Homo sapiens: one gene and its partners. The protein of the gene in region 2 purifies or fractionates together with the protein of the main gene of each other region. This does not show direct contact. Each region holds a gene or a part of one and is shown on either strand. Other genes may lie near its edges.

Evidence for each region. Proteins that work in one complex are often made in the same cells at the same time.
Region 1: the proteins of MYO5C (region 2) and CAPZA1 purify together in Homo sapiens (affinity purification with mass spectrometry; 2 studies listed by BioGRID and IntAct, with this or other methods). This does not show direct contact.
Region 3: the proteins of MYO5C (region 2) and TMOD1 purify together in Homo sapiens (affinity purification with mass spectrometry; 4 studies listed by BioGRID and IntAct, with this or other methods). This does not show direct contact.

Annotation. Positions count from the first base shown.
Region 1 is NC_000001.11:112,664,220-112,671,831, reverse strand, and holds the end of CAPZA1 (F-actin-capping protein subunit alpha-1), read right to left. Parts: intron 4,759-7,612; coding exon 4,687-4,758; intron 2,290-4,686; coding exon 2,227-2,289; intron 1,937-2,226; coding exon of another isoform or gene 1,841-1,936; coding exon 1,700-1,840; 3' UTR 216-1,699; downstream 1-215. UniProt on the Homo sapiens protein: F-actin-capping proteins bind in a Ca(2+)-independent manner to the fast growing ends of actin filaments (barbed end) thereby blocking the exchange of subunits at these ends.
Region 2 is NC_000015.10:52,285,177-52,293,401, forward strand, and holds part of MYO5C (unconventional myosin-Vc), read right to left. Parts: intron 1-8,225. UniProt on the Homo sapiens protein: May be involved in transferrin trafficking. Likely to power actin-based membrane trafficking in many physiologically crucial tissues.
Region 3 is NC_000009.12:97,504,054-97,511,665, reverse strand, and holds part of TMOD1 (tropomodulin-1), read right to left. Parts: intron 1-7,612. UniProt on the Homo sapiens protein: Blocks the elongation and depolymerization of the actin filaments at the pointed end. The Tmod/TM complex contributes to the formation of the short actin protofilament, which in turn defines the geometry of the membrane skeleton.

The DNA of each region.
Region 1 (7,612 bases), on a different chromosome or scaffold from region 2:
CTTTGAGTGAAGAGCAGTATGATCCATAGACATTGCTCACGCTTTAAAAAGCTGTTCTTTGCAAATCTGTGGATATTCAGAGTCTATAAATAGTTGAAGGTAGAAACCAATTTTAGAAACCCTAAACATTCTCAACATAAGATCAAATACAGCTGAATATCTTACCTTGAGAACCAAGGCTGAAGCGATGAATCAAAAAGGAGAGACTCAGACAATTTTAGAACAAAACAGGTATATTTCTATTAGACTACCTGATACAGAAGATAGTGTGGTATGGATGGATAGTATGAAGGACAAATAATACAAATATATTTTATTGAAATAAACAAAAATGCATACACAGCTCAATGGGTCACCTGGAACAAACTTGCTTGACTATATTACTGAGCAGAAACAAAACGGAAGCACAAACACCTTTCTTTTTTTGACATGTATCTGGAGATAGGTAGGAAGACACTACTTGGTTTTTTAAAAAACTGACCTTCCCTTAAGGCCTGGTCATAGAAGTGTAAACAATGTAAATGAATCCACCATTACCAGTTGTCATATCATATCTATGTCACCTGTGTATTCTGAGATTACACACATACCTGCCAATATACCTGGGAAAGGTTATTTTATCACAGTTACACTTGAGTTCTTGGCAGGCAGGACTGAGGAAGAGTAATTTGAAAGAAGTTTTACATCCTATTTAGAAGAAATCACTAGTATTTCCTTAAATAACAGGTTACAATAGAAAGATACTGCCTGGAAGTTATCCTTTCACTTTGGTTCATTTTTAGTTTTTCTTTATGATTTACATAGCTGTTTAATTCATTTGCTTATAGTACAATCCTGCCATAAAGTATTAAAGCACAAGATACCTATTATTCCTTCAACATCTGCATTTTTCAAGTTTTATACTCTACATCCACAGTACGTCAGCAGTTCTTGAATGTTTAAAAAAATAAATGGGTAAAATGCTTCTAAAAAATGCAGATGTTTATAACTACAATGGTACTAAGATGGGAAGGAGACAATGAGAGAAGGGATAAAAGCAAACATGTTCATGTGCAGGGAATGTGGTTCAAGTCTTTGGATTTAAAAACAAGTTCCCCAGAGAAGCTGGCACTTCCTTTGCCCTCCAAAAAGGACCTGAAAAGTCCCAATCCAAACTTTAGAAAATTAGTTATGAGATGCAATAAATGATGATCAAAGCAGTCAGAGGGAGAAGGATGAATGTGTCTTCCATTTAGCTAGAGACTGTAGCATAGCCTCTTTAGGTGTTGGTGGATCAGTAAAAACGACTGAAGTACCAGAAGTGCTTGGAAGGATAGGGGTACAAAGTAATGACCATAATACCTTGTCTAAATCAGTAGCAGGGCTTCATGGCTAGGAAACTTTTTTAAACAGTAAAATGTCATTAGGATAGATCACTCTCTCACCAACATTAAATGTGGCAGAATTAACCAAAAAAAAAAAAAAAAAAAGAAAAAAAGATTTACACGTAGATATAGCAGTAACAGAAAATTACAAGGCAGAGAACACAAAAGAATCAAGACAACGCTATAGGTTCAACAGTATTCCATGAGGCTAGAAAACCGGTTAACTTTGAAAGCCCTAGCAAAATATCACTCTTGTTTATAAATCACTTATTTATCATATGACCACACGTTGAATCCTTGTCTTTCCACATACTGAAGAATCCTACATTCAGCCTTTAAGCATTCTGCATTTCTTTGCCAATCTTGTAGCTGAGTATCTTGTTCCAGTCGATTTTGGTGCGGGTAACTGGAAGCTGCCGGCGCAAGGCCTTGAATGTGGTATCTGACATTGTTTGATAGTTTTCACTAATTGCTGTCTGCAATAGATAATTGAAGATGAGTTGCTTGAACAGAAATGGGGCTGGTTGTGAACAGAAAAGTAATGCTATAGTCAATGGATATGCTTGAGTCCCCTGTGAAGGATAGACAGGATATATTATTTTCAATGAGCTCCTCTCCAATCTCTGAAGTAGGTCAAGAAGTTCACCTATATTATTTCTAAAATGAGGGCTACAGTCCCAAGCAATCCTCAAACCCTGACTGTAAGCAGAATGCCAACTTGGAAGGTCTGCAAAGTCTCCCACATTTAGTAAAACTGAAGAGCATGTATATTTACATTAAAGGACACAAGGCCTAACAAAATATGCTAACAGCGAAATAATAAGATAGTAGATCTAGGAAAATTAACTCCAAATCTTCTTACCTGATACTCATTTTCTGCATTCTCTATGATTTTAATAAACTCCTTGGCAGTTTGGGCTTCATTCTAATGAAGGAAGGAAGAAGGGGAAAATCAGATTTTTTTTTAATGTGTAAGCAGTAAGATCCTGAAAGTAAGTCCATCTTAACTAACATTTGTATGACAATTTCTAGTTTTCCAAGTGTTCCCATGCCCACTACCCTCCTTTGATTCTCACAACAACTCTATGGAAGACACTATGTTATAATCATAACCCCCATTTTGCAGATGAGAAAACAGAATCCTCTTAAGCAACTTGACCAGAATTATACAGCTTTTGAATGATAAAGATGGGATCTGAAATTAGGTCTTCACCAAAAAAACCCATGCTGTTTCCACTCTACCACAGTACGCCCAAAAGACATCATCAAGTCTTGAAACCTTGATGCCTTGAAAATATTTCTGGTTTAAAATGGTATGAACAATGCCCTTGGACACATCAGTCATATACATAAGCTCACATATGCCTTTATTTGCCACTTATGATGTTAAACTAGCCAATCACATTTTGTACCACGTGGTTCAAGTCTAAAATGAAATGAATCTCCCTCTTCCTGTTACCATTAAGTACAACAGAATTAAAGGGAAGAGGGTAGGATTTAATATCTAGAGCTGCAGTCCTAAGACAGACTATGAGGTCAAAACTATTTTCTACTTTCATAATAATACTAACACAAAGTTATTTGCCTGTTTCACTTTCACTCTGTAATGTGTGTATGATGTAATTTCCTAGAAACTACATGATGTGTGATGACTTTATCACTTTCAGGGATAATGAAAGGTATGAAGCAGAGGCCAGGTACAGTGGCTCATGTCTGTAATCCCAGCACTTTGGGAGGCCGAGGCAGGTGAGGTCAGGAGTTCAAGACAAGCCTGGTCAACATGGTGAAACCCTGTCTCTACTAAAAATACAAAAATTAGCTGGGCATGGTGGCAGACACCTGTAATCCCAGCTACTCGGGAGCCTGAGGCAGGAGAATCACTTGAACCTGGGAGGTGGTGGTTGCAGTGAGCCAAGACAGTGCTCCAGCCTGGGCAACAAGAGCGAAACTTCATCTCAAAAAAACAAACAAACAAGCAAAAAACAACTAATATCACAATAAAGTCCGCCATCTTTTAATACACAATTTGTGAAGACACAGACTAATGCCATTCTTCCCACTATTTTTTTCTTTTGATTTGGAAAATATATTCACAAAGATGTTACTTATTAACAAGTAATGGGTTTGTTATCATTATTTTTAATTAACGAATAGTTTTAACACTTCTTAGTTTTCTTTCTTTCTTTCTTTTTGAGACAGGGTTTCATTCTGTCACCCAGGCTGAAGTGCAGTGGCACGATCTTGGCTCACTGCAGCCTCAACCTTCCTGGGCTGAGGTGATCCTCCCACCACAGCCTCCCAAGTAGCTGGGACTACAGGAACTCAGCTGATTTTTATATTTTTTTTGTAGAGACAGGGTTTCACCGTGTTGCTCAGGCTGGTCTTGAACTCCTGAGCTCAAGCTTTCACCTGCCTCGACCTCCCAAAGTGCTGGGATTACAGGTGTGAGCCACCACTCCCGGCCCACACTTCTCAGCTTTAATTTTTAGTGAGGTAAACATTGATAGATCTAACACATAAACAAAAACTCTTTGGGGGTACTCAATAACTTCTAATAACTTAAAGAAGTAATGAGACTATCAAAGAAATGCAAGAACAAATCATGTCTCTTCTTTCAAGGTATAGAACACAATAGTGGCCAGGCATGGTGGCTCACACCTGTAATCCCAGTACTTTGGGAGGCTGAGGCAGGGGGATCACTTCAGTCTAGGAGTTTGAGACCAGCCTCAGCAACATAGAAACCTCATCTCTACCAAAAATAAAAAAATTAGCTGGGCATGGTGGCATGCACCTGTGGTCCCAGCTACTTGGGAGGCTGAGGTGGGAGGATCGCTTGAGCCTGGGAGCTCAAGGCTGCAGTGAGCTGTGATCATGTCCTTCCTTGCACTCCAGCCTAGGCAACAGAGTGAATTCCTGTCTCAAATAGACCACCACCACCAAACCACAAAACATTCTAATTGAATACTCCTAAAAATGTTGTTTCTCTAATGATATAAATGCAGCCCTATAGGATGCAGTTTGGTAAACTTTCCTTGCTCTTGGTATTTATTGAATGAAGGTATTGCTGTCCTTGAGTAACTATTACAATTGAGAGAGCGACTAAGAAGGACATTTGTCTAAAGTCATAATCAATATTGTGAGTCAAAAACTGTGAACTAATATATGCTGGTTGGTGATAAGAGGCACTAACAGAAGTGGCCAAAATCAAAACATTAAAAGCAAACTGAATTTCTACTGGCAGAATCAGCACTCAGGATCAAAACTAATTTTTTAAAGAAAAACGAGACATGAGTAAGACAGACACTAAATATTCCATACTCACCGAAACAGTTAGTGAATCCTGTACATCTTTATGACTAACCAACTGAACATTGCCATCTTCATAATAGTGAACCTGTGTGAGACAATGTTTGAGCCTTTTTAGGGGAAGTTCATAGAGAAACCTGTTATTTAGGACACAAATCCATGCTTTAAGCTATCTTTAAGTTGATGAGCCATTTTACCAACTCTGAACAAATAATTAATATAAGCAGTGGTAATTCACAATGGTGGTTAATTAATCCACAGAACACTTAAGTTTAAGAACGCTTTTTCCTTAGCAAGGAAAACTGATTATTAAGTTCAAGAAACATTTATTACATGCTTTTCACATTCTAAGCACTGTGCTAGGCATTGTGAATACAAAGGTAAATGAGATCCCACTCTTAACAATATTAAAATAATTAAAGTTATTAAACATTAGTTTTTCTCTGTGAAAACCAAGGAATTTTAATGGATCCTCATACCTAATATTTGGCACATTTCTCCATATACATTATCATCAATGTTGGTAAGCAGAACTGACCAGGTACAGGAAAAGTCACATTGAGGGTTAAAGACAGGACAGAAAAACAAATATTTTATTGGTAAATCAGATATTTTTAAAAAGTAAGATAAAAGTAGTTCTGAATATGTAAGGTAAAGTGAAGTGCTACAATTATGCAAACAATTAGCAAAAAGGAGAAGAGACTAACAAGTCAATGACATTTTAGGTTAAGTTTTGGCAACTTAAGATAGGTTTAGTCACCTTGACAAGGCTACTAATTGGTCATACACAATAGGATGAGGGTATCCTTTTGTGCATTTGAATAGGATCTTGAAAACAGTAGTTGTCACCTAAGTAGACAGGTAGAGAATGACATCTACACCAAGGAGATAAAAAAGTATAACAGAATGGAGTATAACTGGTTTAATTTGGAGAAGAACAAAGAACTCACTGCATATGAATATGTGTAAAAAAGGAGTGTGGCAGGAGACATTGCTATGAAGTGGAAACACAGACTGTGAAGAACAAAGCACCTTATAAACCATGTTAAGAATTCAGACTACTCAGGAGGCTAAGACGGGAGGATCACTTGAGGCCAGAAGTTTAAGACCAGCCTGGGCAATATAGCAAGATCCCCATCTTAGGGAAAAAAAAGAATGCAGATGTTATCCTATTATAGGTGACACACGGGAAAAGGAATGTTTTAGAAAGATTATACTTGTGCTATGAAGAAAATAAAACGAAGGAGCTGCTATTGGAGACATAATGCCAGAACAATAGTCCAGGTAATGCCATTTATCTAGTGCTATGATTTTAATGTTGGTACCTTCCCAAAATTCTTATGTTGGACCAATATGCAATGGGATAATATTAAGAGGAGGGGCCTTTGGGAGGTGATTAGGTCATGAGGATGAAGCCTTCAAGGGATTAGTGCCGTTCTAAAAGAGGCTCAATCAAGCTCTCTTGCCACTCTTCTACCTCATGAGGACAGTGTTCACCCCTTCTGTCACGTGAGAATGCAGAAGGTGTCACCTATGAGAAACAGAACTCACCAGTCACTGAATCTAACAGCACCTTGATCTTGGACTTCTTAGTCTCCAGAAGTATGAGGAATAAATTTCTGCTAAGGTATTTCTGCTAAGGTATACCAGTCTAAGGTATTGTGTTATAATAGCTGAAACAAGGCCGGGCGCGGTGGTTTATGCCTGTAATCCTAGCACTTTGGGAGGCCAAGGCGGGCGGATCACTTGAGGTCAGGAGTTCGAAACCAGCCTGGCCAACACGGCGAAACCCCATCTCTACTAAAAATACAAAAAAAATTAGCCAGGTGTAGTGGCAGGCATCTGTAATCCCAGCTACTTGGGAGGCTGAGGCAGGAGAATTGCTTGAACCCAGGAGGCGGAGGTTGCAGTGAGCCAAGATCATGCCACTGCATTCCAGCCTGGGTGACAGAGTAAGACTCTGTCTCAAAAAAAAAAAAAAAACACAAAAAAACCCCAAACAAAGACATCTAGTCTATGCTACCAGGAGATATGTGAACAAAACAGAATGTTTTGAGGGATAAAGCAGAAAAGGAAAAGAGAAGAACAGTAATCTTCACTTACTTCATCTCACTTACTCAGTAATCTTAGCTGTAGGAGCTATTATTTATTAAGCCTTTACTATGTGTTAGACACTGTGCAAACACTTCACTATTACTTATATTCCCTCATTTAATCCTTTTTTTTGAGACAGAGTCTTGTTCTTGTCGCCCAGGCTGGAGTGCAATGGCACGATCTCGGCTCACTGCAACCTCCGATTCCCCGCTTTAAGTGATTCTCCTGCCTCAGACTCCCAAGTAGCTGGGATTACAGGCACCCGCAACCACGCCCGGCTAACTTTTGTATTTTTAGTAGAGACGAGGTTTCACCATGTTGGCCAGGCTGGTCTCGAACTCCTGACCTTGTGATCCACCCACCTCGGTCTCCCAAAAGTACTGGGATTACAGTCATGAGCCACTGCGCTAGGCCACCACATTTAATCTTTACAAAAACTCTTATGAGATGAGGACTACGACTAACCCTATTTTACAGCTGAGGAAACTGAAGTTTGCCTTGAGGCAGTTATTAAACAATAACTTATCCATGTTCACACACCTAGTAAGAGGAGGAGCTAGGATTTGAATTAGGTCAAATTCCAGAGCTATCCAACATATGTAATACCTCCCAATGCTATGTTTTGTCAAAAAGTTAGAAATTCCTTGATCTGGGGAGAAATAGTGTCTCAGCAGGGGCTTACTCTTTGTGGATATCATTAGAAGGGCATAACTAACAGTCAAGCTTCATCTAGGCAGAAAGCTATTTGCAACAAAAAGACTTTCCTGGATAACAAGAACCCCCTACCTATCCTTGTTTAAAGGACAAAAATAAGTATCTTTTTTTTTTTTTTTTTTTGAGACAGTGTC
Region 2 (8,225 bases):
GGCCAACATGGTGAAACCCTGTCTCTACTAAAAACACAAAAATTAGCTGGGCGTGGTGGTGCATGCCTGTAATCCCAACTACTCAGGAGGCTGAGGCAGGATAATCGCTTGAACCCAGGAGGTGGAGGTTGCAGTGAGCCGAGATCGCACCACTGCACTCCAGCCTGGGAGACAAGAGTGAAACTCTGTCTCAAATGAAAAAAAAACAAACAGGCTCTCGCTCTCCCTCTCCCTCCTCTCCCTCCTCTCCCTCTCCCTCTCCCTCTCCCTCCTCTCCCTCTCCCGTCTCCCTCCTCTCCCTCCTCTCCCTCCTCTCCGTCCTCTCCCTCTCTTTCCACGGTCTCCCTCTGATGCAGAGCTGAAGCTGGACTGTACTGCTGCCATCTCGGCTCACTGCAACCTCCCTGCCTGATTCTCCTGCCTCAGCCTGCCGAGTGGCGCGCCGCCACGCCTGACTGGTTTTCATATTATTTTGGTGGAGACGGAGTTTCGCTGTGTTGGCCGGGCTGGTCTCCAGCTCCGAACCACGAGTGATCCGCCAGCCTCGGCTTCCCGAGTTGCTGGGATTGCAGACGGAGTGTCGTTCACTCAGTGCTCAATGGTGCCCAGGCTGGAGTGCAGTGGCGTGATCTCGGCTCGCTACAACCTCCACCTCCCAGCCGCCTGCCTTGGCCTCCCAAAGTGCCGAGATTGCAGCCTCTGCCCGGCCGCCACCCCATCTGGGAAGTGAGGAGCATCTCTGTCTGGCCGCCATCCCATCTAGGAAGTGAGGAGCGCCTCTTCCCGGCCGCCATCCCATCTGGGAAGTAAGGAGCGTCTCTGCCCAGCCGCCCATCGTCTGAGATGTGGGGAGCGCCTCTGCCCTGCCGCCCCGTCTGGGATGTGAGGAGCGTCTCTGCCCGGCCGCCCCGTCTGAGAAGTGAGGAGCCCCTCCGCCCGGCAGCCGCACCCTCTGAGAAGTGAGGAGTCCCTCCGCCCGGCAGCCACCCCGTCTGGGAGGAGAAGAGTGTCTCCGCCCGGCAGCCGCCCCGTCCGGGAGGGAGGTGGGGGGTCAGCCCCCGCCAGGCCAGCCGCCTCGTCTGGGAGGGAGGTGGGGGTCAGCCCCCCGCCCGGCCAGCCGCCCCGTCCGGGAGGGAGGTGGGGGGGGTCAGCCCCCCGCCCGGCCAGCCGCCCCGTCCGGGAGGTGAGGGGCGCCTCTGCCCGGCCGCCCCTACTGGGAAGTGAGGAGCCCCTCTGCCCGGCCACCACCCCGTCTGGGAGGTGTGCCCAACAGCTCATTGAGAACGGGCCATGATGACAATGGCAGTTTTGTGGAATAGAAAGGGGGGAAAGGTGGGGAAAAGATTGAGAAATCGGATGGTTGCCGTGTCTGTGTAGAAAGAGGTAGACATGGGAGACTTTTCATTTTGTGCTGTACTAAGAAAAATTCTTCTTCCTTGGGATCCTGTTGATCTGTGACCTTGCCCCCAACCCTGTGCTCTCTGAAACATGTGCTGTGTCCACTCAGGGTTAAATGGATTAAGGGCGGTGCAAGATGTGCTTTGTTAAACAAATGCTTGAAGGCAGCATGCTCGTTGAGAGTCATCACCACTCCCTAATCTCAAGTACCCAGGGACACAAACACTGAGGAAGGCCGCAGGGTCCTCTGCCTAGGAAAACCAGAGACCTCTGTTCACTTGTTTATCTGCTGACCTTCCCTCCACTATTGTCCTGTGACCCTGCCAAATCCCCCTCTGCGAGAAACACCCAAGAATGATCAATAAAAAAAAAAAAGAAAAAAGAAAAAAAAAAAAGAAAAACTAACAAACAAACAAACAAACAAACAAAGTTCACAGTTACAAGTACTAGACTAGGACAATGCTGGATGAGGAACCTATCTATTAGTTAATATAAATCGCCTTACTTAATCAATAAAACAGAAAAGTCACTGGATGGATATCAATCATGACTACCCCTAAATCATTTGAGTTGCTTTAATCCTTAACAGCTAGCAAAAAGCAGAAGCTTGCCGAAACGTGACATGGATGTGTAAGTTTTGAGAGAACGAGAATGGAAGAATGACCTGGCAGGCAGTGACACACACTCTTGTGCAGATAGGACGATGGAGGCCTCATAAAGAAACACACAGACACGCCTGTCTCAGGCACACACACCCACACCCATCCTTGTTGCCACGGGCTACACAGCTCCTACCCCAGGTCTGCTATTGAAAATATTTATTACTAACGTCATGAAGCTTACTTCATTAAAATGGATTAGGAATGGGATCCTCATAAGAGACACCTGAGAGTTGGATGTATTTTCTACAATATGTACCTATTACTTTCATAATCAGAACAATGAATGTTAATCTTTAAAGGCAAATATCAAAATATATGCCCCCCAAAAGAATTGTACATGAATTACCAAATTTATCAAGAATTGGCCACTACAGAGTCTCAGAACTGATTATCTACTCCAAGTTGTTTGTCAAACTCCTTTTTAGAGCTGCAGAAAGCCTACTTCAAAAGGAAGTTCTGGCCAGGCGCGGTGGCTCACGTGTGTAATCCCAGCACTTTGGGAGGCCGAGGTGGGTGGATCACCTGAGATTGGGAGATTGAGAATAGCCTGACCAACATGGAGAAACCCCGTCTCTACTAAAAATACAAAAGTAGCTGGGCGTGGTGGCGCATGCCTCTAACCCCAGCTACTTGGGAGGCTGAGGCAGGAGAATCGCTTGAACCCGAGAGGCGGAGGTTTCTGTGAGGCAAGATCTTGCCATTGCACTGCAGCCTGGGTGACATGCGTGAAACTCCGTCTCAAAAAAAAAAAAAAATTAAGTTGTAACAGCTGGCTAAGCGAAGCTGGTGAAAGTGGAGGTGTTCTGATGGGAGCTGGAGCTGAGAGCCCTGGGGGCCTTCCAAGGAAGCCTGGGCTCTGAGAAGTAATGTGAAAGTCACTAGGCCAATCAATCCTTTTGTTTAACAGAGCCCCTAACTGAAGCCCAGAGAGAAATAACTCACCAAACAGCAGACAGAGTCTCAAAGGACCAGGACTCCAGCAGAGCTAGGGCCTGTGACTCCTAGTTTGAACTCCGTATTAGTTAAGCGAATCTGGCCCTGAAAGTAATCCTGAACTCTGAACTGCAACCATCTACTTGAGAGTCCATGTGCTCTCCTAACTATAATTTAGGATTGGTTTCAGCTAAAAGTGGTATTAAATGGCAGGCAGTATTAGGACATACGTAACCACTGACGGCTTCTCTTCTGAAGACCAGTGACTCCTCAGCCCAGTACCCCAGGCCGCCCACACCCTGCGATCCTGGTGCTTCTGCTGGCATTGAGTGCCCTGCAGCTGAAACCCAGCCTGGTAAGTAAACAACGGTGAGTTTACTCAGCTCCGGGTAAGTTCCACCCATTCATTCCTGTCCCCTCCTCCCTCACATTCCTCTACCCACAAAGCAATGCTTCAAACTGGAGGAAGAGTTAACTTTACAGCATTCATCCAAACAGATGCAGTCCGCAGTTCATGCAAACAATGTAACCAGCTGTCAACTGACCTCCAGAATATGGGGCCTTCCCATGAGGCAGGAGTCTGTGGACTGGGATGGAACAGCTCGCCAAGCCCTTCAGCGGAGCCAGGAAAGAGAGGGCCACCTCCCAACTTCCCTGAGTGCCCTCCCCATGCCAAGGCGCCAAGCTGAGGCAGAGGCTCGGGACCACTGAACCTTATGAGCTCAAGACCATGCCAGCCACCCCCCCAAGGCACACAGGTGAGATGAGAACAGCATCTTCTCACGCCGCCTGCTTTTCTGAGGGATCTTCTGGCATGAGCCACAGAAATGACTTGAAGACTTATATGGAAGATGGGACAAGATGGGACGACATGTGTTTCCCTCCTAGAACCGCTTTCTGGACTGGGAGTGTCCACACTCCAGGTCAGCCAGGCCAGATTGTCACACCATGCCCCTCTCTTCCTCCTCCTCTTCATTCGCTCCTCATGGGCCCCTCCCCTGGCTCCCCTGCCCCTCCCACTGCCCCCCATGTCCGTGTCTCCCAAGGTCCTTCCCAGCCTCTTCTCATGATAGGCTGTTTCTGGAGAGTTCCACCCAATTCCACAGCTTCTGCAACTGCCTGGCACCTGTGCATCTGAGACCTCCCACCCAGATCGTGCACTGGAGCTCTACACCACATTTCCAATTGCCTCCAAGATGTCAGCCCCTAAATGTCCTCATAGACTCATAAATTCCAAACTCCAGTGATGCCGACGCTCCTCCTTCCTAGCTCTCTTGCCCCTCATGTCAGAAGCCTGGGACAGTGCTGGGCACCCCTCTGTGTCTCCACCCCAACAGCCCAACAGTCACCAGGTGCTAGAAAAGACTGCCTTTTAAAAGCCCTCTCCTGTCCGCCCCTGCCTACCAGCCCCCTTGCCATGGCCATAAGTCAGCCCCCAACCCTACCCCCACCAATCCTCTCTTGACTGGTGCAGCAGCCCCCGGAGGCTTCCTCAGCCAGGCTGAGCACGAGGTTTCTTTGGGCAGACAGACTCTCTCATCCGTACTTGATTGGAATTCCTGTGGGTGGGGCCCGGCAAGAGAAAAGCTTTGAAAATCAACCCCCACATGGGTTTTGAGGAAGAGCCAGGCCTGGGCAACCAGCATTCTGGCCAATTTCCTGCTCAGGCCTCACCCTCTTTTCAATCCACCCTCTGCCTGTGGCCACCCAAAACCACTAGCACTTTCTGGAACATGGCAGGCCTTCTTTGGCTTTCTGCTGTGTACTTCTGTTCCTTCCACCCTAGCCCCACCCATCCTCTCCCCATCCAAGAGCAAACAGCTCTGAACAGTCTGGAGTAGCTGGAGACACTCCTCATCTTGGCACTCTCCTTGCCACTTGCCATCTAGCAGAGCTGGATGCTTCCCTTGAGCGCTCTCTGCTCCTCCCCCAGGTATCTAGGCTGCCTCCCATCTCCCCCACTGGCATTTGAACTTTAAGAGCCTGGTCTTTGTGCTTGGAATCCAATGCAAAGGCTTCCCATAACTAGCACTCCATAAACAACTTTTGAACAAAAATTCAAATTCCCAGTGGTTCAGTTGCACCAATTAAAGACTAAGTATTTCAGTCTTTTCATCCCTTTTTTTCTCTTTGAACTACCCATACATAATACAATGGATACATTTAATTTTCCAGAGTTGTTAATGGTATATAGAAGTCTAAAAACTATTTAGAATTAGCCAAATTAAAAAAAAAATCGTTACGCTGAACTTTGACCTCATTTTAGACAGGGGCCCTGGACTGCTAGTCAAGACACTTCTTTTGACCTTGCACATCTGAGTTTCAGCAGAACTTTGAAGATATTTGTGAGTTCCTCTTGCACAAGTGAAAGAAACAGATGGTGGAATGACTGTAGTGAACCTGTCACTACACAGTCATAACCTGAGTTCTAATTAATGAGCAAGAGCAACCTTTAGGAAAAAAAAAAAAAAAAGGTCTCCAGAGGCATGCCACAGAGCTCTACCGCCTCCCCTTTCATTCAACACTTTCACCAGTATCGTAGATGAAAAAACAAAACACATGTATCAAACAAGCAGATGAAATGATTGATTAGCTAAAGATGATCAAGATTCAAAAGGTTTTTACAAGCTACAGAAACGCTGGGCACTAAACAAAACAGAAAATTTTATAGGGATAAATGTAAAGTCTGTATTTAGGTAAAAAAAATCAACTGTATTATAATAGCATCAGTATTTGAGTAATCTTTATTAAGCATTATGTGTCAGGTGCTGTGCTAAGGATTTTACACGCCATTAATCCTCATAGTGACCTCCTCAGCTGGTAAGCATGATTCAGTCCATTATACTGGTGTGGAAACTCAGGTTAAGTAACTTGCCTGGTGTCACCCAGTTAGTAAGGGGCAGGACCAGGACTTGATTTGACCCACCAGGGGCAGAGCATGTACCAGCTCTGCTTAAAGCACTAACATAATGCCAGGATACACTGAGGGATGCTCACAAGAAGTTGCACCGTACTCATGGCTGAGCAGATCAAGGCTAGAGAATAGTGCCACTAAAATGGGCATCAAGGTGTGAAAATTCACCCAGAGGAAGGTGGCCTGGATGCTGAGGGTCTGGAATGATGCTGTCAGAGAAATGGTTGGTGGCACTGTCACTCTCCTCAAGCCGTCTGTCCTACCCACCCTTCCTGCTCAGCAGCTGTCAAGCTCTCTGGGCTTTCTTCCTTCTCTGTCAGTATCTCTGTGCCTTCAACTCCTGCCACTGTGGCCTCAGGCCCTCACTCCTTTCTGAGGTTAACCCATGCCTGGTGCCTTTCTTATGTCTTCAAACTGCAGTCCTCTGCTGGTTTCCTCCCTTTCACGGGTCATGTCAGACTTTCCCTTTCCCCTTCACAGTTCTACCCAAACAGAAACGACGCCAGGGACCAAAACTAGCGGCCAAACCTAACAACCCATCCCCAGCCTTCATCCTTGTTGACTTCTCTGCAGCTACTAGAAAGAAAGACCGTCCAATCTTTAGGCAGTGATATGTGTGGTCTTTTTTCTTTGTTTGCATATTTTATGTTTTTTTTTTTTTTTTTTTTTTTTTGAGACAGGGTCTCGCTCTGTCGCCCAGGCTGGAGTGCAGCGGCGCGATCTCGGCTCACTGCAAGCTTCGCCTCCCGGGTTCACGCCATTCTCCTGCCTCAGCCTCCTGAGTAGCTGGGACTACAGGCGCCTGCCACCACGCCTGGCTAATTTTTTTGTATTTTTAGTAGAGACGGGGTTTCACCGTGTTAGCCAGGATGGTCTCGACCTCCTGACCTCGTGATCCGCCCGCCTCGGCCTCCCAAAGTGCTGGGATTACAGGCGTGAGCCACCGCACCCGGCCGCATATTTTATATTTATCTTCATACAGTATATAAACTGTTGTGCCCCATTTTTCACATAACCATGTTTTCATGTTATGAACTCTTCAGAAATAGTACTTTTAATGGCTTCATGCTGTTTTACCATGTGAATCTTCCATAATTTACTTAACTTTACCCCTCTTGCTGGACACTGGGATTGGTTCCAATTTAGTTATTATAAGGAAAAATACAAATAAGCAGGTGTCAGGAGAGGTAGGTAGAAAGTGGATGAACTTCTCACAAGCCCACTGTGTGCGGGGAAAAGGTCAGATCCCTTGAAGAAGAGGAAGATAATAAAGGCGGTTGAACCAAGGTGGTGGTAGTGAGAGACACTAAGAACATAGGTTTTCAACTCCGGCTCCATCACTTGTATGTTACCTTAGCAACTTACCTGACCTGAGCCATTTCTAAAAGTGTGAGATCATCTAACACACAGAGTTGTTTATCCAGATTAAATGAGAGGCGGCACATGAAACTCTGAGGATGGCATCTAGCACATAGAGATAAAAATAACATCATCCATATCATCGTCTCCATGGTCCTAGCTATTTCTGTAAGCAAAAACGTTCAGTCATGCACACAGGTGCACATCAAACATTTATGAAGCTCCCACTGTCCCCTGCTCACTGAAAGCTCTTGGTCAATAGTGGAGACACAGAGTTCACGAGCTGTTACCAGGCAATATGGAAGGCACCGTGTGGAGGGGCTAGCTGCAGAGGCTTTCTCAGAAGAGGTCCTGCTCAAATTGAAGGTGGAAGGTGCAGGTGCCATGAGCAAAGGTGACAGACAGAGGCTCAGACAGGTGGAGTTCGTGTGCCAAGGCACGCAGTGGCAACGTGCAAGCAAGGCATTGAGGGAATGGCAAGGAGTCTGGCAGAGCATGAGCCAGGTAAGAGCAGGAAGGCAGGGAGAGAGGCAGGACCTCGTGGCTGGTCAGTGAGTCTGAAAGCAATGGGAGCCTCTAGAGGTGGTAGAGCAGAGAATGCCAGACCGGCTCTTCTTAAGAGAGATTTCAAATAGGGGAACTGCTGCTCTGAACATTTCTAAGGCATGGCACCTGTAGCTTTTCAAAAGAGATGGATGATTTTACACCTCACCTGGCAGCGATTGCTCCCCTCACCAAGACTTCTCCTGGAGTTCCCTCTTCCCTGTTCCCACAGGGTGGCTTCCAGCTCCCCTGTTAGCTCCTCCTCTGGATGGCTCCATCTCAGCCCTTCTGCTTCCTCTCACTCCTTGCACAGATGCATTCCCCGCTGGCCTGTCCCTCACCCTCTTCTCTGTCTGCCTTCTCCCACCTTGGTGAGACCCTCAGTGTCTTGTTGGCTTCAGTGACCACCTCTGGGC
Region 3 (7,612 bases), on a different chromosome or scaffold from region 2:
CTGCAGTGAGTCCTGTTTGCACCACTGTACTCCAGCCTGGGTGACAGAATGAGACACAAAAAACAAACAAACAAACAAGCAAACAAACAAAAACTGCCCAGGGGTACACTGGGCTAAGCCGGGAAGTAGTGAGCACCTGTCTCTATAGGCTGTGAGCAGCGATGGCAGAGCCCTAGATGAGGTCTTCCAGAGAGGGTTGATGTCTTGATTGATGGTGGTTATTGGGGAGTTGACAATACAGGATTTAAGGCCCTTTAAGGCCTAGTTCTATTATGACAGATGTGCGTGGAGCCCCTGAATGGAGGAGGATGGGGACTTAGAGACCAGCTATTGTTAACAGACTTGTTTTCTGGCTCATTTGCAGTTATTTTCACTGGCTGATTTCATTCTCTTAGTCATATGGGAAAGTACCTTCTAAAAAAACAAACACACTAAACATAGTGTTTGACTCCATCACTTTCTGCAGTTGCTATGAGCTTCATCCCAGAACACAATGAGCCATGCTCGATGCTCTAAACGTCAAAGTTGTCAAGTGGTTTAAATTGGAAAAGCCTGTGTGTGTGTGTGTGTGTGTGTGTGTCTGTGTGTGTGTGTGCGCGCGCGGGTGCATGTTTTCATTTTGCATCTCTTGGGGTCATCATGGTGTCTGAGTCACCACAGCAATCATCTGTAAGCAACAGGGTTCCAGGAAAAGAGTCTGAAGACATCTCCCTGTCTCAGCTGGCCTGCCCACCTGCCCTCAAACCATGCTGCACTCCACTCCTCCTATGTCTCTGCAACTTTTCTGGTTCAGGCCACACTTAGCTCTCCCCACGCTCTGCCCCTTCCATTTCATTTCCCTCCACACCAGCAGAAGAGAGTTCTAGGAAGCTAACGATTGTAGTACAAACAAGAGAGGCCATCAGAGTTCTTTGGGAGTTATTGCATTATCTTCAGGCACCCCTACTCCCACAAGACTAAAAGCTACCTGAGGACAAACATCTCTGTCTCCCATGGTCCTTCACAAAGCCCTGCACCTGTCCAGTGCTGAAGACATATTCGTTGAATGAATGAATGAATGAATAAATGCCTAGCATTATTATTAGCTTTGATAGCCGTAAGTCAAAAGCACTTGTAGAATAAAAGCTAACCTGTAGACCGGGTGTGGTGGCTCAGGCCTGTAATCCCAGCACTTTGGGAGGCTGACGTGGGTGGATCCCCTGAGGTCAGGAGTTCGAGACCAGCCTGGCCAACATGGTGAAACCCCATCTCTACTAAAAATACAAAAATTAGCCAGGCGTGGTGGTGGGCACCTGTAATTCCAGCTACTCGGGAGGATGAGGCAAAAGAATCGCTTGAACCTGGGCAGTGGAGGTTGCAGTGAGCCGAGACTGTGTCACTGTACTCTTGCCTGGGCAACAGAGTGAGACTCAGTGTCAAAAAAAAAAAGCTAACTTGTAGGAAAGCTTGTGGAATTCATTCCTATCCTCATTCTCCATTTTACAAACATGAACTTCATCACATAGCCTCATAGCAGGTGTTAATGTAAGATAGAGCTTTATGAAACATGTTTTTGTATTTTCCAAAAAACCAATATGAAAATTAATACGAACAATACCAAAAAGCAAACGGCAAGCTGGGGGAAAATATATTTGCTTCATATTAAACAAAAGGCTGATTTGTTTAATAGACAAAGAGTTCCTCCAATAAAAAAACAGAACAGGCCAGAAAATGTGGAAAGAGGAGAGGAATAGACAGTTCACACAAAAGGAAATACTAATGGCTAATACACATATAAATAATAACAAAACTCACTTATAATTATAAAAAAGCAAATTGTGGAAGGAGATATCAGTTCTATCAGATTGACAGAGATTTAAAAGTCTGAGAATTCCCAGTGTTGACAAGATGTGGGGAGACCAGTGTCCTCACACAGAAGAGAAGTTACATTGGTATACCCTTTTTCAGTTCAAGACCAGCCTGGGCAACATGGTGAAACCCCGTCTCGCCTAAAAATACAAAAAATTAGCTGGGCATGGTGGCATGCACCTGTGGTCCCAGCTTCTGGGGTTTGGGGGAGGACCACTTGAGCCCAGAAGGTGGAGGTTGCAGTGAGCCACTGCACTCCAGCCTGGGTGAAAGAGTGAGACCTTGTCTAAAAAAAAAACAAAAAACAAAAAAAAAAACCTCTATTAGCGAAGAAAAACCCAAAACCCCCAAAACGGCATAAAAATTCAATAAGACATTGAGTAAATAAATTAGAGACATACAACAGACTACTATTAACACCATCCTTGAGGCTACTGTTGGCCACTTGTCACTGTACCTTATAATAGAAGCTTTGTTTTGTTCTTACTGCATACCAGGCACAATGCTAAGCTCTTTACATGGATTATTTCTTGCAGTCTTAATAATTGTGAAGCAGATACTTTTATTATCCCCATTTTACAGATGAAGAAGTGCAGACTATGTTAGATTTATAGGGCTGCCATAATAAATGACCACAAACTGGATGGCTTAAAACAACAGAGATTTACTCTGTCTCAGTTCAGAGGACCAGAAGTCCAAAATCGAGGTGTCAGCAGGGTTGATTCCATCTGGAGGCTTTGACGGGGAATCTGTTCCATGCCTCATTCCTACCTTCTGGTGTCTGCTGGCCATCCCTGACAGTCCTTGGTTTGCAGCCACATCACTCCAATCTCTGACTCTATCATCATCTGTTCTTACTAGTTATGCTGCCTATATAGGTTTATTTTAAGCCATCTCAAGCCTTTTTAAGGGCGTGTGTCCACTCTTCTTCTTAAGACACCAGTCATAGGGTAGTTAGGACGTACCCTAATCCAGTGTGACCTCATTTTAACTTCATTAATTACATTTGTAAAGACCATATTTCCAGAGAAAGGTCACATTCTGGGGTGCTAGGTGGGCATGACTTTTGGGGGGGACCCTGTTTAACCCAGTAAGTACACTGACCAAGGTCACAAAGCTAATAAGTGGTAGAGCCAGGATTTACATCCAGGCAGGCCATCAGTACTCATTACCAGTACTCCATGCTGCCACCTTCCCATAATATAACAGCTCACGCTTACATAATATCCCAGGCACGTCTTAAGCATTTTACATATAAGAACTAATTTCATCCCCACAACAACCCCAGTTTATAGATGGGGACACCAGGCACAGAAATGTTAAAAGTTGGCTGGGTACGGTGGCTCGCACCTGTAATTCCAGCACTGTGGGAGGCCGAGGTGGGTGGATCACCTGAGGTCAGGAGTTCGAGACCAGCCTGACCAACATGGCGAAACCCCATCTCTACTAAAAAATACAAAAATTTGCCAGGTGTGGTGGTGTGCACCTGTAGTCCCAGCTACTCGGGAGGCTGAGATAGGAGAATTGCTTGAACCTGGGAGGCGGAGGTTGCAGTGAGCTGAGATCGCCCCACTGCCCTCCAGCCTGGGTGACAGAGCGAGACTCTGTCTCAAAAAAAAAAGAAAGAAAGAAATGTTAAAAGTTACCTGAGATTACAGAGCCAGTAACTAGTAGACCTTGGATTTGAATCCAGCAAGGTGGTCTCCAGAGTCTGTGTGTGTGTGTGTGTGTGTGTGTGTGTGTGTGTGTGTGTGTGTGTGAATCAGGAAGATAGATTGTGTTTCATTATGTGTCAATTGCTATTTAAGGCCCCCCAAAGGACTAATGAAGGATTTGAGTCTGCCCTTCATTGCTCCTAGGTTCCCTGGCCTTGTGCAGACTGATCCGGAGTCCGCCTTAACTACTATGCCCTCTGTCTAGTGGCCTGTCTTGACAATATACTGAGGATTGGGGTTAAGAAAATAGTTCCCTCTCCTGAAAGACTGATTGATGTTCTTCCTTCTACTATCAGACACCAAGAGTCCTCCCATTCATCTTGTCCCCCCCTTTCCCCTTGGCTGCCATGAGTCATCTCAGAGCCAATTTGAGTGTCCAAATACAGTTGTCATCTTCAGCCAGGGCACTGGCATAATTTTCTCTCTTTATTCTCTGTATCGGGTGCTCTTAACCCGGACTTTTGAATAGGCTTCAGGGGAATCACACACCCACTGAAATGATATGCAAATTGTTGTGTATATGAATATATTCATTTTTGTGGAGCAAGAATTCATAAGCTCTAATCAGATTCTCCAGGAGTTTCGTGATCTTAATCTTCAGGGTTTCTGCCTGTCTTTCTAGAATTTCTGTTCTTACTAGTTGCATTGGTCATGTAGTTTATTTTTTAAGCCATCTCAAGCCTTTTTAATGCTGTAAGTGGAATACAATGTAAAACCATAATAAGCAAATGCGTGCAATGTTGCTATCCATTCTGAATTTTTAAATCTCTCTTGGTTTGCATGGAGGAAGTCTGTCCTCACGTCTCCCTCTCTCTTACCTTCACTTTGCACACTTCTGAGTGGTTTTGATGTCTCAGGGTCTCAGGTGTCTCAGGTTCCCATCCCAGCACTGCCCAGGCACCCATCTTGTGCTCATAGATCCAAACTTGCAAGAAGTTTGCTGACCAGAAAGAGCCCTTGATTTTGATCCAAGGCACAAATGAATTCATTTGTAGATTTAAAAATCCACTATCTTAATGCAATGGCCAGGAGGAAGCTTTGTGGTAACTAGCACTCACCTTGGTGTTCAAAATGTGGTGGTTTGTAGATACTAGTCAACACCACCTGACTAGATGTTTATTAGAGCTTATTAGGAATTATTAAGTTTATTTTCTAATCAACTTATTAGAGCTTATTAGAAGCAAGGAGCTTTTTAGAAACTCAGACTCTCAAGCCCCATCTCATACCTACTGAACCAGAATCTGCATTTCTGAAAAGATCCCAAGTAATTTCAATGCACATTAAAGTTAGAGAAGCACGGATATAAAACAAGAAGACTCATTTCTCAAGTTTGTCAAACCCTGGAGAGCACTTCAGTTTTCTGGAATTGGATGACCTGGGACAATTCCTACTAGGGTTCACTGTCCCATTACAAAAGGTAGGTAACAATACTTGCTGTTCCTCCCTCATGGGGTTACTGTGAATTTCAAATGAGCTCTTGGATTCACACTAGCTACGTATCATGATGGGGCTGATAGGAGCTGGAGAGCTGGCAGTGGGGAGCAGAATAGGTGTGGTCTCTGCCCTCATAGAGCTGATGATTTGGTCGGGTAGGAGAACATGCTGTAAATGCTGGTTGGTGTTGTGTGACTGTCCTGGTTATCACAGAGCCTTCATTCATTTATTTCATGCATTCATTCATTCATTCGGTGGTCAGCCATTTATTAAAACCTGAAGTGCCTGTACTATGTCACACATTAAGCTCTGAGCTGCACATGGGGAAGCAGAAATAAATGAGTCAGAAACCTCGTCCTCAGGGAGCTTTTAGTCTAGCCAGAGACAGAGATACATCATTGGGTGGTTCCATTTAGAACACACTCTGGCTGGTGCTCTGAGTTGGCACAGGGGGCTGTGGGGGTACAGGTAAATCAATGAAGAACTTTGCTTTTAAGGGTGATTACAAGTTCACAGACTGAGAAGAGGGAGAACAGCACTGAAGGCCGAAAGAACAGCAGGGGAAAGGCAGGGAGGCATGAAGGCACAGCATGCTTTTGCCATGGCCAGAAGGTAAAGAGAATTTGGAGGAGTGCCTAGAGATGATTTTGGAGAAGTAGCTTGAGGCCCGGTCTTAGAGGCTAATGAATCTGGTCTTTATCCCTTAGGAAATGGGGAGTCCCTGAAGGGAGACAATTGACGCAGGTGAAGATCTTTTAAGAGCAGCATGGAAGAAGGAATGACTTGAGGCAGAAATACCTTTAAGAGGCTCTGAGAGCAGCTTAGGGGAGAGAGGAAGTCCTTACTGGGGTACTGGATGTGGCGATAGAAATGGATGTAAGAGAAATTAAGGAAGGTAGCATTGACAGGACTTGGTGGGCAAATGAATGGGGTGGTGAAGAGAAAGGAATCAGGAGGCAGAGATGTCTATAGATGAGGAGCACAGTCCAGCTTGATGCAAGAATTAGGGAGTTGGGAGGTGACTGGAGTCGTGGGAGTGAATGAGACTGTGAGAGTGTGCGGTGGAAAGAGAATAGGGGTAGGAGTGGCACCAAGGCACCAACAGCAAAGCGATGGGCAGCAGCGATGAGTCTATGAAGGAGGCTGAAGGATGCCCAGAGGCAGTTCTGCTTTCCTTCATTCCTTTGGGCATGGAGAGCAACAACGCAGTGGTCACAACTCATCACCCTCCAGAATCATCGCTAGAAACGGCCCTGGGGTCACCACCCTTGAAGCCCCAGAGTGAGTGGGGCCTGAGGCTGGGGCCCCTGAGAACATGAACTGAGACAGGGATGGACATGCGTGGACGGACGCAAGCCCTTGTCTCCCTCTCCCTCCCTCTTTCCTCCTCACAGATGGTAATGTCCAACCCTTTCACAAATCATTTTTTTCTCTGAAAGAAAACCAAAAGGACATAAGAGAAGGAGAAACAAAAGGCATGCTTGAGTTTGTTTAGTTTTTCAGATCAGACAAAAACCCAGCAACACCTAACACGAAAGAAAACCTCCCAGACCGTGTCCTAAGTTGACTCCAATGAGCTCATTCTCTCATTAAGAGCAAAGAGAATTAGGTTCTATCATGATTAGCCAAAGGAAGATTTTACAAAACAAAACAAAAGAGAGGAAATGGCCCGGAATTGTGCTATCTGGTTCATGCTTTTCCATAGAAACAGGCCTGTGGTTTTAAACTGATAATGGCTCCTAGCAGCCCAATAATTGATTTATCTGGTGTTCTGGCTTTAAGGGAAAAGTAAACTGGCCTCTTTAGAAATGTTGGCAGCCTGGCTGGTCCATTAGTAAGACTGAAAAGTCAAAACATTGACTGGAAAAGGCCATTACGACCGGGCTCAGCAGGAGTCATCGATAGATGATGTCATTTCAGAAATAAATAAGCCAAGGTTATGAGGCCCCAGAGCAGGGTCAAAACACTCTTCACAGCCCATCACCATCCTCCATCGCAGATACTGGTCTGCCAGAGACATAGGGGTCTGAGCCAGGATCTGCTTCGTTTTACCTTTTTTTGCTCATTCCAGGGGATGAAGGCCACCTGCAGAGTCTGTGACATTCTGCAAGTCACTAAGGAAGGTCCCCAATCCTCATTATGGGCACACCTTTTAGATTCCCCTTTAACTCTCTCCCCTCTCCTGGGTTCTTCTCACTACTTGCCATACTCTTTATCCTAGAATGCCTGCCTCCCTTCTGTTCCTTGTCCTCAGTTCCTGCTACCTTCCCTCTCCCTTCCTTTCTCATCCAAGCTTTTAGAAAGAGTTGCTGGCTCTGTTGAGAGCCTTCTTCAGCCTACAGCCTGAAGAAGTGGAGAACTTCTTCAGCTCCTGTTAGCTCCTGCCTTTCCCCCTCACCACAACGAATACTATCATTGCAATATCAGGCTCTGGGCTGAGGGCTTGCCCTGAATCATCTCACTTAATTCTCACAAGCAGCCCCTATGAAATGGGGCTATTGTTGTCTCCATTGTATGAGGAGAAAACGAGGCTCAGACAGGCTGGGTCACTGGCAGATCTCATTTTTTGAGCCTGCTGCAATACCCTGGTCTAAGTCACTCATGATCCCTGCCAA